Linked DNA regions of Homo sapiens: region 2 is linked to region 1. Evidence: fine-mapped expression QTL. A gene starts in region 1. The other region holds a variant in brackets. All regions are shown on one strand. Distances are between the middles of the regions. Region 1 holds the start of RNGTT (RNA guanylyltransferase and 5'-phosphatase). Region 2 overlaps RNGTT (RNA guanylyltransferase and 5'-phosphatase).

Region 1 (5,193 bases):
TCCTAGTAAGCTCTTTACATAGCAGATATGAAATAATTTTATGTTGAATGATATATCTTTAAGAAACTAGGGAGGGCTGGGTGCGGTAGCTCACACCTGTAATGCCAACACTTTGGGAGGCCAAGGCAGGCGGATCACCCGAGGTCAGCAGTTGGAGACCAGCCTGGCCAACATGGTGAAACCCCATCTCTACTAAAAATACAAAAAAGAAAAGAAAAGAAAAGAAAAAAAGGAAAAAGGAAAAGAAATTATAAGTTTGTTTTCTTCCAAGTATTCACCTGAAATCTATTAACTCAGAAGGAGGAAAAAACAGTTCTTCAGAAAATAAAGCTTGGCCCTGTCTCCAAGAGCTCTCTCTCATTGCAAGTCTGGTTTCATCAGAGAAAGTGACTTCACAGAGAAACAAATTATATGTAGTTAGTACCATTTTCTTTCTGATTCAGGAAAATTATGAACTTCTAGTACTAGTAAAGTGAATCCTAACATTTACAACATATAAGTTTGAGCAGCCATAACATTTTCCTCAATATGCAAAATATCAAAGAAATTACTGTGATGGTTAATACTGAGTGTCAACTCGATTGGATTGAAGGATGCAAAATATTGATCCTGGGTGTAGAGGGTGTTGCAAAGGAGATTAACATTTGAATCAGTGGGCTGGGAAAAGCAAACCCACCCTTAATCTGGGTGGGCACCATCTAATCAGCTGCCAGCATGGCTAGAATATAAAGCAGGCAGAAAAATGTGAAAAGACTTGACCGGCTTAGCCTCCCAGCCTACATCTTTGTCCTGTGGTGGACGCTTCCTGCCCTCAAACACTGGATTCCAAGTTCTTCCATTTTGGGACTCAGACTGACTCTCCTTGCTCCTCAGTTTGCTGACAACCTATTGTGGGACCTTGTGATCGTGTGAGTTAACAGTTAATAAACTCCCCTTTACGTCTGTATGTGTGTGTGTGTATGTATGTGTGTGTGTGTATATATATATATGTACATATATTTCCTATTAGTTCTGTCCCTCTAGAGAACCCTTACTAATAAATTACACGATAAGTACAAATTACTTTTTTTTTTTTTTGAGATGGAGTCTCACTCTGTCACCCATGCTGGAGTGCAGTGGTGCAATCTCAGCTCACTGCAACCTCCGTCTCCTGGGTTCAAGTGATTCCCCTGCCTCGGCCTCCCGAGTAGCTGGGATTACAGGCACATACCACCACGCCATCATAGCTTTTTGGCTATTCATATAACTTATTTTGTGAAGTGTCCAAATTTTTTGCTAGTTTTTAAGTCCTTTGAATTTCTTCTGTATAATACATTGATGGTGGGACTATCAAGTGTTACCACTTTGGAAAAGAGGTTGGCAGTTTCTTAAAATTCTTAAAACATACACCTACCATATGATGCAGCCATTCCTCTCCTAGAGACTTACACAAGAGAAATGAAAGTATATGTCCACACAAAGAATTGTACATGAATGTTCACAGCAGGTTTATTTGTAATAGCTAAAAACTGGAAATAACCCAAATGACCATCAATAGATGAACAGGTAAACAAATTGTGGTATACCCAGAACAATAAACTACTACTCTGCAATAAAAAAGGAATAAACTATTGATACATGCATAATCTGGATGAGTATCAAATTAATTATGCTGAGTGAAAAAAGCCACACACACTTCCTTCCACCCCAAGAAGAGTACTCACTATATGTTTCCATTTATTTAAAAATTTCTAGAAAATGCAAACCAATCTATAATTACAGAAAGCAGATCAGTGGCTGCCAGGCGAAGGAGGGATTTAAAAAGGGGCAAGAGGAAACTTTGAGGGGTTTCATGGTTGTTTCCTAGGAAAGAGATATATTTGTGTATATACAGTCAAAATTTATCAAACTGTACGCTTTAAAGCTTATTGTATTCAAGCTCAATAAAGATGAAAAAAACTACAAGAAAAATAATTAAAAAAAACAAAAACCCGGCCAAGCGGGGTGGCTCTCGCCTATAATCCCAACACTTTGGGAGGCCGAAGTGGGAGCATCGCTTGAGTCCACGAGTTCAAGACCAGCCTGGGCAACACAGTGAAACCCTGTCTCCACAAAAAATAAACAAAAAAATTATGGCCAGGCACAGTGGCTCACGGCTGTAATCCCAGCACTTTGGGAGGCCGAGGCGGGCGGATCACTTGAGGCCAGGCGTTGGAGACCAGCCTGGTCAACACGATGAAACCCTGTCTCTACTAAAAACAAAAATTAGCCGGGTGTGGTGGCACGCGCCTGTAATCCCAGCTACTTGGGAGGCTGAGGCAGTGAGCCGAGATCACGCCACTGCACTCCAGCCTGGACGACAGAGAGAGACTATGTCTCAAATATATACATTATAAATATATATATACTTTAATAAATAAAAAAATTAGCCGGGTGCGGTGGCAGGAGCATGTAGTCCCAGCTACTTGGGAGGCTGAGGTGGGAGGATCCCCAGCCCGAGCAAGAGACCCTGTCTCACAAGAAAATAAAAATAAAAAACTAACAAAAACACCCTCCAGATTCCCAGTCTCAATGTGACCCCATTTCACCGCTGGGAACCGCCCCTTCCCTCCTTAACCCTCCTCCATCTCAATACTGATATTCATCCCTTCTTTCGAGGGGAAGGTTGAACCCTAACAGGTTCGCAAACTACTAAGACTCAAAGTACGCCCACTGTATTCCTGGATCCTCACCTCCTGCCACCAACCTCCTGTCTACCTTCACATTCGCACAGTTAGCCTTGCAGGAATAGTAACAAGTGCCCCCCATCCGCCGACCATCCCCTCCCGTTCATGTTCCCATTCATCCACGAAGCGTAATCCGACGGAGCATATCCCGCTCCTGAAATACCACTAATGGGCACAGAACCACCAAAAGCTGAGCTCCTCAGTCGGCCCACCCCCGGGCACGTTGGAGTGTGGGGATTCGAACGCCCCCCAGTCCAGGTTACCTGCCACCGGCTGGCCGCGCCGGGGACAGTTCAGCCACCGCGGCGGGATCTTGTTGTGAGCCATGTCTTGGGGCTGCGCAGAGCTGCCCTCCCTCACCAACGTTCACCGCGCCTTTGGAGCCGCCTCCCCGTGGTCCGGTGCACACCGGGGTCCGAGACACCCGAATCGCAGCCGTAATCTGAATTCCAACCTCTCCGATCCGGGTAACGTCAGGGGCGGCGCGCCACTTTCATTCAGGATCAACTCCACAGCTCCAGGAGAACCCACAATGCACCGCAACTTCCGCCCCCGAAAGCCCCGCCCCCTTTCCGAGGTCAGAGGGAAAGAAGAGGAAGCTCAGCGGAAGGATAGCAAAGAGTTAAGGACGCGACGAATGGGAGGAGCGGGCCTTCTCTCGCCCCACTCGGCACCGCCCCGCCCCGCCCCGTCCCGCTCCACGGACGCGCCCGGACGCTACTGGTTCGCCTTTGCGCATGTGCAATTGCCCTCGTACCGAACTCCGCAGGACGAAGCGTGTATTTTTTTCCCATCCAGACAACCTAGAGAAACCCAAAAAAGAGGGAAGCCAAGCGCCTTTCCATGCGTAGATTGCCCGCCACTTCCGTTAAGGCATCTATTTTACTGATGAAAAGAGGCCTTCTGAGCGTTACCACAGCTCAAGCTTGGCGTCCCAGCCGGATCTAGGTTTGATTTGCAATTAGGGAAAGTTGTTCAAGGGAACAAGTCTTAGGAGAATTCTAAGGACATGAGATTGGAGTACCAGAAATGGGGAATTTTTCTTTTGGTGAGTACTTACGAGGATCTATGAAGCTTCTGAAATTAATTCCAGAACACTTAGAGTTTTGTTTGTACATTTCTGGATCAAAGTTTCAAAGCATACTGGGGAGTTTGAGAGGGTCCATGTCTCCAAAAAAAGTTACTAATTAATGTGGTATAATTGACAAAGGTAGGAATTGATCAGTGGAGAACCTCTTCGTGGCGTTGTTCTCCTTGGCCTACCAAATAAACAGTGCCTTTTATTTTCCCTTCGAGTTAAGCAGAGGTGCTTGAAAAATTTTTATAAATGCCGTCCTTTAACGAGCCTTTCCTTTGTTACCAGATTAAAGTGTTAAATATAAAGCTGGATGATGGCGAATCAATTATAATGTAGTTTGGCTTTAAACACCAATGCTATATTGGAACTGCAAGAACGTAAGGCTGCAGGGAATACATTTTTAAAGCGTCGGTGGGGAACTTTCTGGGACGCTCAACCCCCTGAATGCCTGGACCCCCTCAGTAAGAGTCCCATCAATAGAGGCAGTCCAACAGCAATCTCTCTGAGGCAGCCTGAGTTAGGTCACACTTCTGGTCTGTCCTGCTGTTGCATCTGCTCAGAACTGTTAGTGAAGGTGTAAACTCCTCCCCTGACAGAACAAGATAATACCCAGTTTCCTTTAAGGCCATCAGTCTACCCAAATAATCTCCGATGAATTCCCTTTTCTGCTGATAGAGTGTGTACCATGCCCAAAGTGGTAAAAACCTTCCATCCCCAGACCCCCTCCAAGGATGGGAAAGGTGAGCCTGATCCTGGAAGAGTATCTTACCTTCCCCTTCTGGGGATGACTCCCCTTGGTGACTCCCCTTCCCACACACGCTATACCCAGTAGCTCAGTCCTAGGCACACAGAAGCTTCATACCACTGGCGAGCAACTGTTATTGGCTGTAAGGCAGCAATGTGCACTGGATTTTTATTCTGCTATCCAGTTATGCCCTCTCCATACTCATTGCCACAGAATTGGGAGGACCCTGTGGCTACCTTTTGTCCACAATAGAGAGTAGAGTAGGAGAGTGGCATCCCGATGAGCAGGCAGTTTCTCTCTGCCTGTCAGGAATGCCTTGCCTGATGTGTGTTTCTGCCTATATTGCTCCTAGTCCCAAGTTTCTACTACTCTGTGAGAAGAAAAATAGATGCTCACAGACAGACCAACATGATTCCTCCCCCGCTTCCTGGAACCCCTGACACCCTCCCAGATATGTCTTGATCTCCTCTTTATCAGATGTAGATTCTCTTCATTGGTGAGTCTTTCATCAAACATCCATTTTGCCCATAAGGAAGAGTGTGTACATGTAAAAAATAAGATTGAACGTTCTCTTTTGGCAAAAGAGAGAGATCTTATCTGTCTTCCCTTTTCCTAGGACTTTTCCTTGAGAAAAACCTATATTTATTAATCCTTCCTCTTCACTT
Region 2 (5,193 bases), 160 kb before region 1:
ACTGAGGGCAGTTCAAATTTGAGTTTAAAAATCTATATTTCCTTAAAATTTTAATGTTCCTTTCTGACACTGAGATAGAAATTAGATCAGTAATTGCCAGAGGCTTGGGGGGTAGTCTTTAATGAGTTTCAGTTTTGAAAGATGAAAAAGTTGGCTGGGCATGGTGGCTCACACCTGTAATCCCAGCAATTTGGGAGGCTGAGGCGGGCAGATCATGAGGTCAGGAGTTCAAGACCAGCCTGTCCAATATGGTGAAACACCATCTCTACTAAAAAATACAAAAATTAACCGGTGTGGTGGCGCGCGCCTGTAGTCCCAGCTACTACTCACAAGGCCGAGGCAGGAGAATCACCTGAACCCAGGAGGCGGAGGTTGCAGTGAGCCAAGATTGTGCCACTGCACTCCAGCCTGGGCAACAGAGTGAGACTCCATCTCAAAAAAAAAAAAAAAAAAAAACTAAATTCATAGCATTTCTGCTGAGCAATGATGCAATAAAAACCAAATACCACAATAATCTCTTTTTTCAAAAAAAAAAAAAAGGTTAAAAAAATGTAACCTTTAATCTTTCATTTGCTCTACTTGTATTGTAGGTACATCATTTATGGCAAGTTAACATGGTAGTTTCCATTCTTCAACCAAACTTCTCAAATTCATGTAATGGACCATGCCTGTATGTAAAGTAACAATAAAAAATAGCCAGTTAGCAAGACTCTACATAACATGATTCTACCTGCTGCAGAAATGAAAGTAATTTCATTTTTTATTCTACTCTTTTTATAAATCAGAGTATTTAAAGGACTGAAAATTCATGGGTCAAAATAAGAGTTCCTCTGCATTACTCTAGACAATATTTTTTTCTTTACTTGACACATAATATTTATGATATCACCTATCATGTATCAAAGACCTACAATGGAGTGTTGTGCTTGGTACTTAACATATCATTCAAAATACATAACTCCTCATGAGATGTGTATTCTCAAGTTTTGAATTATTACTCAATTTGCCAGAAAAGGAAACTGAGGTCATCAGACATAAGCAACTAGCTTTAATTCAGAGAGTAAAGTAAAATCACTCAGAACAGATTACATCAGACTTTAACTAAAAATAAAGAGATAACTAAATAAAGTCTTATGACTCTCTGAAACAAATGCCCCAAAGATTTCTGCAAGTTCCTAAATATATAGGTCCTCCAATAGCCACTTAAATTTTATAGACTTGGCCAGACACAGTGGCTCACACCTGTAATTCTGGCACTTTGGGAGGCTGAGGCAGGGGACTGCCTGAGGCCAGGAGTTCAAGACCAACCTGGCCAACACAGCAAGACCCCATTTGTATATTTAACAAAAATTTTATAGACTTTAAATGCATTATAGAATATACTATATGAATAAAGTGAATATGAAGGGAGATAAAATTCTTGAAGGAAAAAAGGTTTTCTAAGAATAGAGATGTAATCTAAAAATGTTATTAATATTGTATACTTTATATTAACTGATTTATATATTCATATGAGATCATATATGTAATGTGTTTATTAAATTAGAAATATTAGCTTTTGTTTATTTACAATTCTTAAAAAAAAAAAGTATCCAAACTTGTTACGGCCATCTTCCATATATCAGTATCTTCATCATTAGAGCCAACTTTTAAGTCATTTAGCCAGTTTCCATTATTTTTCCTGCTGCTGTCTCTGATTTACAGCATTCTTCAAATCATACATGAGATTATAACTGCAGATGTTATCCCAAGCTACAAGTACTGGTTGACTAATGTTAAGAAAATGCTTTTTCCCCTCATTCATTCCATAGATCTATGTTCATAATCTTAGAAGTGCTTTGCTCTTTGAAGATACCTTTAAAAGGTTGGTTTAAGAAAAAGTTCCTCATTCATTTACGATGTGAAAAATAGTAAGAGAATGCTGCTTCTACACTGATGATAATAAAAAAGCAGATAATCTATCAAATAATAACTTTTGTTATGGCCATCAGAAAGCTGACATCTGCAGGCAACCAAATAAACTGAATCCCAGCCCCTCCAAAGGAGGGTGAAGTATATGAACTCATGTCTTCTTTGGTAGAGAAAAGGAAGAGGAAGTGGCAGCCATAAGTGAGTACAAAGAAAACAACAACTGACCAATTCTTAAAAACTAAGTCTGGGCGAGTGGAACAGTTTAGAATCCCTGGAAGCCCAAAACACAAGAGATACAAACTTTTTCTCAGGCTTCTATCAGGCTTCACAAGAAAGACCACAGGCAGGGCAGGAAACATGAGAATGCCCCCACCTTGGTTGGGCACAGACGTTAAAACCCTCCTGCTTTCCAAACCCTTCTTGATATGATGCAAAAGTTACCTGGGAATAAATCCATATGCAGCTATACAAGAAGCTGGAGACAGACTTGGACCAATGATATTATATTGATAAAAAGCAGAAAGACTTGGTCCTGACAAAATATCCCTATGCAAGGCAAAACTTCACTGGCAAGAGGGAGAGGGAAGACCCACTGAGGAAAACCCCATGCCTGCGATTCAGGTGCTCAGGTTCTGCTTAATACTAAGGCTGGAGAAGAAAAACTAAGAAAACTCCACAGTCTTCACAAGTCTGGCACTGAGCGGCAAGAAACAGTTGTTTACATATGGGGAAAAGTACTAGAAGTATGAAAATAGAACACTCTGTGGTACAGGGGAGCAGAGCCTACTGAAAGCTAAACGTGAAACAGAAACACCAGGAGAAAACCCTTTTATACTCTAGGCATTACAATAAATACAAGTAACAGCAGCCAACTGCTGAGAAAATATAAATTCTTTGGAGCACTGAAGATGTAATTATATAGCAACACATAGAACAGGCTGATTCAACCACTACCCCTCCCCACCCACAAATGAAGCCTATTAACAAACTAAAAGAAGTATGCCTGTTACCAAGCATAAAGATACTTACCTCAGTCTCTTTTGTTCATATAGGAAAGAAAAATCCACGAAAGACGTCTAATTTAAAAATTCTGTCTCACACACACACATACACAAAGGAAAAATAAATGGCCTATATTCAAAGATAAGGCAGTCAACAGAAGCAGACAAAGAGAGGGTCT[A/G]TATTTTGGAATTATCAAAGACTTTAAAAATAACATTTACAAAAAACAACAGATGCTGGCAACGTTGTCGAGAAAAAGGAACACGCTTTTTTTTTTTTTTTTTGAGATGGAGTCTCACTCTGTCGCCCAGGCTGGAGTGCAGTGGCACAGTCTCGGCTCACTGCAACCTCTGCTTCCCGGGTTCAAGAGATTCTCCTGCCTCGGCCTCCTAAGTAGCTAGATTACAGGCGCGCACCACCACACCTGGCTAATTTTTGTCTTTTTAGTAGAGAGGGGGTTTCACCATGTTAGCCAGGATGGTCTCAATCTCCTGACCTCGTGATCTGCCTGCCTCGGCCTCCTAAAGTGCTGGGATTACAGGTGTGGGCCACCGCACCCGGCCTGAAAAAGGAACACTGTTACACTGTGAGTGGGAGTGTAAATTAGTTCAACCATTGTGGAAGACAGTGTGGTGATTCCTCAGAGACCTAAAGGCAGAAGTATCATTTGACCCAGCAATCCCATTACTGGGTATATACCCAAGGAATATAAATCATTCTATTATAAAGATATATGCATGTGTAAATTCATTGCAGCACTATTTATAACAGCAAAGTAATGGAATCAACCTAAATGCCCATCAATGATAGACTGAATAAAGAAAATATGATACATATACACAATGGAATACTATGCAGCCACAAAAAGGAACAAGATCGTATCCTTCAGGGACATGGATGGAGCTGGAAGCCATTATCCTCGGCAAACTAACGTAGGAACGAAAAAACAAAACACTGAATGTCCTCACTTATAAGTGGGAGTTCATTGATGAGAACACATGGACACATGGGGGTGAACAACACACACCAGGCACCTGTGGGGGGCATGGGGAGAGGGAGAGCATTAGGAAGAATAGCTAATGGATGCTGAATTAATACCTGGGTGACGGCATGATCTGTGCAGGAAACCACCATAGCATGTGTTTACTTATGTAACAAACCTGCACATCCTGCACATGTACCCTGAACTTAAAAGTTGATAAAACAAATAAATAAATAAAAATAACATTGTAAATGATCTAGACAAAAAAGTGGAAAACATGCATAAACGGATATGGAGTTTCAGCAGAGATGGAAACAATAAAAATGAAACAATTGAAAATGCAGAAATAAAAACACACAACATCAGAGAAAAAGAATGTTAATCAGTGGGAATGATAATCAATGAGATTATCCACAGACTGGACACAGAAGAGAAAAGTCACTAAACTTAAAGAAGAAACGTACGTGGCACTTTTTCCAACTGAAATACAAAAAGAAAAAAAGAGGGAAAAAAGAAACAGTGCTGAGAATCAAAGAGCTGGGAGACTACAGCCAAAGACAGAACATTTGTACAGCTGGAATGCGAAAACAAAAAGAAAGATACAAGGAAGCAAAGAAACCAACTGAGAGAAATAATGCCTCCAATTGCTACAAAATTAATTAAACACATAAACACAAACACACACCCCAATGGACTCCAAGAGGACAGGAAGAAAGATTTAAGAAAAACAAAAAAAAAAATGTAGGTTTATCATAGTCAAAACCCAGCAAGAAGGGGGAAAAGATTACAGGCAGAGGAACAAAAATAAGATTGACAGCAGACTCCTTATCTGAAATTACGCCAGCCATGAGACAATGAAACCTCACCTTTAACATACTAATATTAATAGAAACAATGTCAATCCAAAAATCTTTAGCAAATGAAAATATCTTTCAATAATAAAGGCACAGTAGAGTTCTTTTTCAGACAGACAATAGCTGATAAAACATATTTCCACCAAGCTAGAATATAAGAAATTTTAAAAGAAAATTTTCAGGTAGAAGGAATATGATACAAGAATAAAATCTGTATCTAAACTGAAATAATGAAGGGCATTGGAATGGTTAAAAACTAGAATAAATATAAGAAATCTGTGTTCCTCTTTCTTTTCTTACAATATAATTGACTAATTAAAGTAAAAATATTAACAATGTATTGTAGGATTTATAACATATGTAAAAACAAATTGTATAAAAGGAAATGAGGTAAGAACCCCAACTAGGAAGTGGCATACTATTATTTAAAAGTAAATTGTGAAAACA

What was found. PIP is the estimated chance that this variant, and not a neighbour inherited with it, causes the effect.
Region 2: its variant is the best candidate, but not a certain one, in a credible set for the expression of RNGTT in whole blood (INTERVAL, PIP 0.69).

The regions. Positions count from the first base shown.
Region 1 is chr6:88,960,378-88,965,570 of GRCh38, forward strand. RNGTT (RNA guanylyltransferase and 5'-phosphatase) reads right to left here and starts at 3,241. Exons shown (of 16, transcript NM_003800.5): 1 at 2,969-3,241. The coding sequence starts at 3,032. RefSeq lists enhancers at 1,660-2,586, 2,941-3,320 and a silencer at 3,304-3,538.
Region 2 is chr6:88,803,142-88,808,334 of GRCh38, forward strand. The region is part of intron 11 of RNGTT (RNA guanylyltransferase and 5'-phosphatase); the gene reads right to left. Among named protein-coding and RNA genes, the nearest start is that of RNGTT, 160 kb to the right of the region's middle. The variant A/G (reference allele first, on the strand shown) is at 3,092.